Linked DNA regions of Homo sapiens: all the other regions are linked to region 3. The links come from fine-mapping of genetic effects on gene expression. A gene starts in region 3. Each other region holds a variant in brackets. All regions are shown on one strand. Distances are between the middles of the regions.

Region 1 (2,767 bases), 26 kb after region 3:
AAGTAAATGATTTAATCTCTAGAGAGATTAAACCTCACTTTTCTTATGTTGTAAAATAGACATCAGAATGATCCAAATTCATAGGGTGTAAAGACTAAAGTAGACAAAATATATAAAGAACTTAGGATAGTGCCTGGTTTACAGTAACTGTTAAAAATGTTTTGTTTTGTTTTGTTTGTTTTAAGAGGCTGTTGTAGTAACCTGGGCATGGGATGTGGGTCATGGATAAAGACGTGGAAAATCCAAGTAAGATTTAAAATAGCACTGGATGGAAACAACACTGGATGAAAACCAAACACTGAATACAAACCCAAATAGGAAAGTAGAGAGGGTGAGTTGGTTGGGTGGAAAAATGAGTTTTGTTTTTGACACACAGTTGAAGTAGCCACAAATTATCTCAAAAGAGAATGAGATGGAAGTTTTGTAGTTTAGGAATGGAGATACTTGGGTTTTTTCCTGTGGAAAGGTTTCCAAGGCCAGTTTTTTGTTGTCGTCATTTGTTTGTTTGTTTGTTTGTTTGTTTTTCATTTTGAAAGAGGGTCTCACTCTGTTACCCAAGCTGGAGTACAGTGGCATGATCATGGCTCACTGCAGCCTCAACCTCCTGGGCTCAAGCATACTTCCACCTCAGCCTCCTGAGTAGCTGGGACTACAGGAATGCACCACTATGCCTGGCTAATTTTTTTTATCTTTTTTGTAGAGACGGGTCTCACTGTATTACCCAGTGATAGTGATAGTGGTCTCAAACTCCTGGCCTCAAGCCATGCTCCTGCCTCGGCCTCTCAAAATGTTGGGATTATAGGTGAGAGTCACCATGCCTGGCCCCCAAACCACATTTGTAGAGAAAAGAGCAGAGGAAAGAGGTGAGAGAAAGTGAGAAGAAAAATAGATGCCAGGAAAGACGTCTGAGAAGGGGTCTGAGAGACAGGCCCAGCTGTGTAATGCTATGGGAATCAAGAGGATGGTGAAGTTTAAAGGTTTGGAGACAATCCCGTTAAGTCCCTTTATTAGGTAAGGCAGAGTTCAGCCCTAGCACTGAATCTGACTTGGAAGAAGATCGTGAATTTCCTCCATGAGGGCAGTTTCTCTAGAATGCTGAGGGCAGAAGACAACTTGCAGAGGACTCCTTCATGCACTAACACTATTTGAGTGCACATTGTGTGCCAGCCTCAAGGTTAGGTAGGATTTACAAAGGTAATAGGAAGGAAGACTAAAGGCTATGATGGAGATCACATATTCCAGGAGTTTGGAAGAGGAGGGATTATACGTTTTGGAGGCAGAGAGAGTGACTAAGGCACATCTTCTGGAGAGGACCTCAAGCAGAAGATCTTAACTTGGGGTCAATGAGCTAGTTTAGAGTCTGTGATCCCTCTGACAGTGTACCAAAGTTGGTGGGCTTCTGCCCACCTATCCTTCTCTAGCACTAAAAAGTTTCC[G/A]TCTCCACTGGTGTAGATGTTAGTCTTGGGAAGACGAAAGGATTAAAAGTGAAGCTGTTAGGCAGAGGTGGTGAAGTGGAGGCACACTTGAATCTGTCATGCTTACTAAGGACAAGATCTTGGAGACATTTTCCTCCACCAGGAGGCAGTTGTATGCCCAGAAAGAAGCTGTACCCCAGAACCAAAGGACTATGTTCTTGCTCCAGCTAGATGTCTCACATGGTGCTTAGGGGGTGGGAGAGAATGGGGTTGGGGAGGTATGAAAAATGTAATTTTCATGGAGCAAATTCCACTGCCTCATCTACATGTTATGAAAAGCATGTTATGGTCATTTGTAGGCCACACATTCATCTCATTAAATTGATAAATATTCGAGTGCCCTTTTTGTACCAAGCACTGTGTTAGGAATTGAAAACATTAAATCTCATAAGGCATCATTCCTGCTGTCACTGAGATTGTAGGGAGTGGGGTCTTCAGAAAGAAAACCTGTGCTTACAGTTCTGCAAATAAGAAATAGACAAAGTAATTGAGGAACGTGGAGGAAGGATGTCTTCATCCAAGTGGGGGTCTGGGAGAGCTTCCTGAGAGAGGTAACCTGAGTTGTAAATGGCAGTAGAAGTTAGCAGAATGAAGATGGGTAAAGGTAGTTCTAGAAAAGCATTCACACAAAGGCATGAAATACTTGACACTTTTAAGTCATTAAAAGCATCTGGTATTGCTGGCATGAGGTGTGAGGGTGGACAGGTGGCAGGGAACAAGTTAGGCAAGACTAGTTCCTGAGGGGTCTAGAATACCAGGCTGAGAAGATCAAAGGTTATTCTGAAAGCCATGCATTTCTCTGTATAAGAGAGAGAAGTTGTCACTGAAGGATTTAAAGTGAATGGACAGACTGAGCTTTTAAGGTTCAGAAACTTATTTTGTGATCTTCCATAAAGGATAGGTTGGAGGTGGGGAATGGAGAGAAGAGACATGAAGAAGGTGAGTCCTACGAGTCATCACATTTTCTTACATTAATGGTCACTGTCCCATTAACACCAAACTAAGAAAGTAAAAGAGCATTCTTTAAAAGTTAACCTTTTGACAAAACAGCTTCCTTTATAGCTAAGGAGTCTCCAAGAATTGTCTTTAGCCACAAGCCAAAGAAGTCTACTTAGCCTGGAGTCAACCCAATCCCTAATTTCCACACTTCAGCTTTGCTGCCAGCTAAAATTAAATGGCCGTATCCACATTAATGCAGTGGCAAAGTGGAAACCTATCACATTGTCTTAAAACAGAAATGTGTTTATATAATCAAAATGTTAGAGAGTTGTTTTCAGTAACATCAGAGTTTC
Region 2 (2,767 bases), 36 kb before region 3:
ATCATCTTGTGGTATTACAAAAATTCCTTACATCCTAAATCCTTACATCATAAAAAAATCCTTACATGATAAATTCTTTCCTTTTCTCTTCTGATCATAAAATTGTGACCACATATTAATTAAGCTAATTATATTACAGATCATAAATACTATCCAAAATACACTGTGAGCCATACCATAGTTCCAGGCATACTTTGATGTTGCTGTAGTTTGAAAAATTTACTTATGAAGTCCTGTTCTGCCAGACATAGGGGCTCCAGTTCACTTAGTACCTGTTCAAAGATCTGAAGAAAACCAAAGTGATCCTATAACGAAAGAACTGCACCAAATGCTTAAAATAACACTCCACATTTAATTTTCTTTTCTGCACAGACCATGGATCCATAATCTCACTAATCTATGAATTTATAATCTCAATGGAATCCCAAAAACAAACTCTTCCAAGATCTACAGGACAATGGTATTAGCAAGGTATAACAAGGCCACAAAATAAACCTAAAATAAAACTCACAGTTATTCACTTCACATCTGGAAAGAGGAGCACAAAGATCAACTTTTAAAACTTATTTATGGCCAGGCATGATGTCTCATGCCTGTAATCCCAGCACTTTGGGAGGCCAAAGCGGGCAGATCACTTGAGCTCAGGAGTTCGAAACCAGCCTGGCCAGCATGGTGAAACCCCATCTCCACTAAAAATACAAAAATTAGCTGGGTGTGGTGGCAGGCACCTGTAATCCCAGCTACCTGGGAGGGAGGCAGAAGAACTGCTTGAACCCAGAAGGTGGAGGTTGCAGTGAGCTGAGACTGTGCCACTGCATTCCAGCCTGGGTGACAGAGCAAGACTCCATTTCAAAAACAAACAAACAAAAAAACTTATTTAATTTAGTACAGAGAAAGGCCAGCATCACAAAAGCTTTTATTTCCTCTTACTTTTTAGGTGCCCAAACAACTTAGATTTGAGATATAAGCATTTTATGATTTATAACAAATTTTAATAAAGCTTTTATGCCATTTCATTGATAATTCACATTTTACTTGTCCTTTGACTAGTTTTTTTTTTTTTTTTTCCCAGATTCGATTCAGTTGGAAAGACATGGTTAATGCTTAAGAGAGCCAGAAGAACCCAAATCTTTGAACACACTTAGAGCAACCACAAACTGCTGTTAGAAAACTAATGTTAATGTTTAAGAAGTACTTGTTATTTTAGTTTACCTTATCAAATTTGGTCCTGTCAGCAACATCGAGATCAGAGGCAGACATGTTTCCCATATCCAACAGGGAAGATGACTGAGATCTGCGATTCCCTGAACTCTGAACACTGAGCTTATTTAGACTAGAAGTAGATCCAGTTAATTTCCCCGAACTTCCATGAAGACCTAAGAAATAATAAAACTTTGAAAGTTGTGATCTTCACAAATAAATGATCCAAAGTATAAAGCAGGGATAGATCTTCTATCTTCTACTGGCTTGATCTTCCAGGGCTCATATTAGTTAGTGCACAAATCTTCTATAAGGGATAGGTGGTATAGTTTCCTTATCTTCCATTAACATTGGTGTCCTAAT[T/C]CTGAGCATATTGAAAAAAGAAGCGAAACTACACAGATCCATAGAACGGGACTGAAAGGGACCTTAAGGAGCATATTGTCTATAACCTGCCCATTTCATAAAGTCGCCTGGTGATATCGCTAGACTAAAGTAGATGAGGGTTTCTTTTCCATTCAAAAGGACAGGAATATGGATGAAGGTCAATGAGGACCACGTTAGCATATTAGCCAGCATGACTTTGTTATACTTCAGAAGAAAACTGCTGCATCTCAATGTTACCTCCACAATAAATCAATATATTAGGTTGAACCACATGAAACTGCCCATACTTGATCATTTTGCCCTACCAAAAAAAGTCAATTACATATGATTCAACTTAGTATGTTCCAAACTCTGAAACTGCTTTTCCAGTAAGTGAACTGATTATAGTCCTTTAAAAACTAAATAAAATGAACAGAAAAAACACCCTGAAAACTCGTTATATTTAAAATACAGCCGAAATGTAATACATACATCACTAATCATATTAATATGGGACATCTGTGTTTAGGTAAAATTTTGGTATCCGTCATAGCCATGAGGAAAAATGAGAACATATAGCTGGCAATAGCTCACATACACCAAGGAATTAAAGGATTTGATTTTTAGAAGAAAATGTGATATTTTTATTCAGAATTAAACATAAACAATAACTAATATATTTTAAAAACATCCTTCCTGAATATCTCTCAGTTAACTTGTACTATTTGCTAATGGTCAGAAAAGACAAATGAAGACAGAACAGGTACAATTAAAGATAAACTTTGGCTTCATTATGTAAAATCCGACCATATCTATATAAGATTTTTTATAGTTTCTAAACAGCCTGAAAATAGAAGTATAATGGTTAAGTCTTTTCACAAATTTCTGACACAATGTTCTACTACTCGTCAAGTAATTTTAACTATATCATATATTTCTTGGATACAGCCATATCACTACCATCATGTTGGCTTTCTTTCACCAATACCTGGCAATTCAGAGCAATCAAAATTTTTGGTGTTACCTTTTTTCAAGACAACTAATTTCTAGACATTAAACAAACATGCATTGAGAATACCTACTAATACACTAAGCATACTCACTCTCTGTTTCCTGTTTGACAGCACTTTCTTTTCGAGGCAGTGTAGCTGTGATGGATTAGGTTGCAAGCATCAAAGACAAAGACAAGTTAATAAACTGCAAT
Region 3 (2,767 bases):
ACGTTTTCCTAATGTTCTCAAAAACATTCCACTCCAAACACTCTGTTCATTTTGGACATCAAATCTTCACTTTGGTACTTTCCATGTAAGGAATATCATCTCCGCCCTATCCAAACCCTAATTACACTTCATGGTTTACATGAAGTTGATTCAATGAAGATCTTAATCCAAAGTGATCTCTCCTCTAAATTTCTACAGCACTTACTGCATTTGCCGTCTAATGGGCTCATTAAATCATAAGCTTCTCTATCTCAAGAATTCTCTTAAAGAAGGGAGGGATGTTCATCATAGTTTTGTGTTTAGTGGATACTTAAATATCTATTAAGGTAATTAGAACTGAATAGTAAAAACTGGTCAAATGAATAATAGGGACCAACGTTTACCACATACTCCTTCTCTGGCTAAAAGCAACTGAGTGTACAGTAAGAGGCAAAACAAGACAGGATTGGGCATACCTCATAAAGGAGTTAGCCATAATGAAAAGCAGTATGTGACTCTTCATTCATTCAGCAAATACTCATGCTTATTAGGTGGCAGACACTATTCTAGGTTACAGTAGTCAACATGACAGATATGTTTATGAAGACCTGAAGCCGGGTGTTTCTATGGCATTTACATCCTAAGAGTCGAGTGATTAACTCTTCAGTCTTTACGGTACTTTTCTGAAAGTCAGTAAATAAATCCCTAGAGGTCCTCTAAAATTATTCTCCAGGTCTGAGAACCCATATCTGACCACGTTCCAAAGGCAGCCATCCACTGCTTACTCTGTACTGGTTGTTTCCTTCAGCTCAGTTGGACCACCACACTGTGTGACAAATAGCCTGTCAGTGTGAGTGCCCGTGTGCATTGGGCCCTGTATGCTGCTGAGATATATTAATGCATGAAGCATTGCCATCTAGAAGATATAACTGTGCAAGGAAATAGAGAAATACACTTAAGAGATTTGGCGGGGGGTGGGGGGGAGTTGGGGTTGGGGGGCCGGGATGTGAATTTGGACAAAGAGGAAGGCACAGTCACGCTCTCCTCTCCTGGACCACGCCAAAGAGCTTACGATCAGGGTCATTTTGCACAAACAAAATCTGGTTCCGATGGGCGGAACCGTAATGGGGCCCGTGAGGACTGCCCTCCCAGCTCCGCATTCTCCTAGACCCGAGGACAAGGGACTGGAGAATGCTCTGACCAAACTTCGTCTTACCGGGACAAACGGGGAAAGGAAGGTCAGAAGGAGCGGTGCCCGACCCCAGGCGTGGAGACAGCAGCCGGACTGAGGAGCCGCCTTAGACCCTGGTGCCTGTCAGCTCGTCTGTCCGCCGCCGCCGGGACTACCGGGCAGCCGCGGCCGAAGGCTTACCGCAAGGCCGGACTGAGCCTGGCTGTGCCGAGGCGGGTCTTCCAAAACGGAGACCGGATGGGGGCCACTAGGATACGCCCCTCAATAAAGCGTTGAACGGGAAGCGGCCGTTCCCCCAACACTTCCTATATCCGGGCACGTGACAAACTCCGCGCCGGAAGTTGACCGCGTAGAGAAGGAAGAAGCAGCGATGGGAGAAAAAGGGAGCGGCCAATAGACGCGGAGGGGCGGGGCGCCAACCGACGGGCGTGGCCAGGCGGAACAAGGCCTCATTGGAGGGGCGTGTCAGGGAAGGGCAGGGGCGGGGCCTTTGTGGCACAGAAACTGACTTGGGAGTTGGGGATTAAGAGTTATTTATTCAGATATTTGCAGCAATTCATTTAAGAAGAAATTCGATTAAATGTTTTCTTTTTTCATACGTAAAGCTCTATTAACTCTAGATCTTTGCTACTTAAACTTTGGAGAGCTTAAATGAGTTAAATCAGAATCCCTGCGGGTGGGACCCAGACATCAGTACTTTTAATATCTTCCCAGATGATTCTCATATGCAGCTAAGGTCAAGAACCATTGTCCTCATGACCTTGATACTCAAAGTGTGGTCCGTGGATCAGCTGCTTGGGTATCATCTGGGGGCTTTTTAGGAAATGCAGCCTCTCTGGCTCACTTCAGATCTACTGAATCAGAATCTGCATCTTAGCAAGATGATGCTTATGCATATTTAAGTTTGGGATGCATAAATGATGCCAATGTTGCTGGTTGCAGGTAGGTGTTTTATTTATTCAATATTCCTGGCACCTTTTTTTTTTAATGCTAGGCACTTTGATTCCAGGTACAGAGGTGATTCAGGCATGAATCTTAACCTAAAGGAGTTCACAGTGTGGTAGGACTAGACAAGGTGTAGGTACAAATATATATAAAATAGGACACAAAATAAGTGACCAAAGAGAGGTACAGATCAGATAAATGTGCTAGAAATTTAAATGAGCAAACAGTAGTTAGAATACTTTTCACTTTCATCAAATGACTTCCCTTTTAAGAGCAGGATCTGGTTATATCTTTACAAAGACCCTTTCCTGCTTGGCACCGGAATGCTTACTGTGGACACTCTATGACAATTGCATGTGTTTTTTGGTCCTATTATCTTTCTTTTATTTACCTGTATGTTTATAGCCCTCCTCAAAGTTGGGAAATGAATTGCATTTCAGAAGCCTAGATCTCTTTCTTGAACCTCAAGATTTGTGTATATACTGCCCATCGCCTGACATTTCCACTTGGATGTCTTATAGACACCTCAAACTTGTGTGTCCAAAAATTAAATTATCCTCTCTCCTCTTGGATTCCCTGCAAAGTGACACTTATATGCAATAGTTTATTTGGAAATTTGATCCCAGGGAGCAAAATGAGGGAAGAGGAAGA

Alleles and levels. Positions count from the first base shown, and alleles are read on the strand shown. Sizes are in standard deviations (SD) of each study's normalised expression. Not every link is listed here.
For the expression in transverse colon of the gene that starts at base 1,501 in region 3, allele G in region 1 goes with a lower level than allele A (small effect, 0.17 SD a copy in GTEx).

The links. PIP is the estimated chance that this variant, and not a neighbour inherited with it, causes the effect.
Region 1: its variant is fine-mapped to the expression of EXOC1 in transverse colon (GTEx, PIP 0.98).
Region 2: its variant is fine-mapped to the expression of EXOC1 in nasal epithelium (TOPMed, PIP above 0.99).

Annotation. Positions count from the first base shown.
Region 1 is chr4:55,826,607-55,829,373 of GRCh38, reverse strand. The region is part of intron 1 of EXOC1L (exocyst complex component 1 like); the gene reads right to left. Among named protein-coding and RNA genes, the nearest start is that of EXOC1L, 8.2 kb to the right of the region's middle. The variant G/A (reference allele first, on the strand shown) is at 1,437.
Region 2 is chr4:55,888,832-55,891,598 of GRCh38, reverse strand. EXOC1 (exocyst complex component 1) reads right to left here. Exons shown (of 19, transcript NM_001024924.2): 11 at 2,667-2,711; 12 at 1,213-1,376; 13 at 177-284. EXOC1-AS1 (EXOC1 antisense RNA 1) reads left to right here. Exons shown (of 5, transcript XR_941069.4): 5 at 1,073-2,007. Among named protein-coding and RNA genes, the nearest start is that of EXOC1, 37 kb to the right of the region's middle. The variant T/C (reference allele first, on the strand shown) is at 1,564.
Region 3 is chr4:55,852,382-55,855,148 of GRCh38, reverse strand. It overlaps EXOC1 (exocyst complex component 1), which reads right to left and starts at 1,501. Exons shown (of 19, transcript NM_001024924.2): 1 at 1,196-1,501. RefSeq lists a silencer at 1,610-1,709.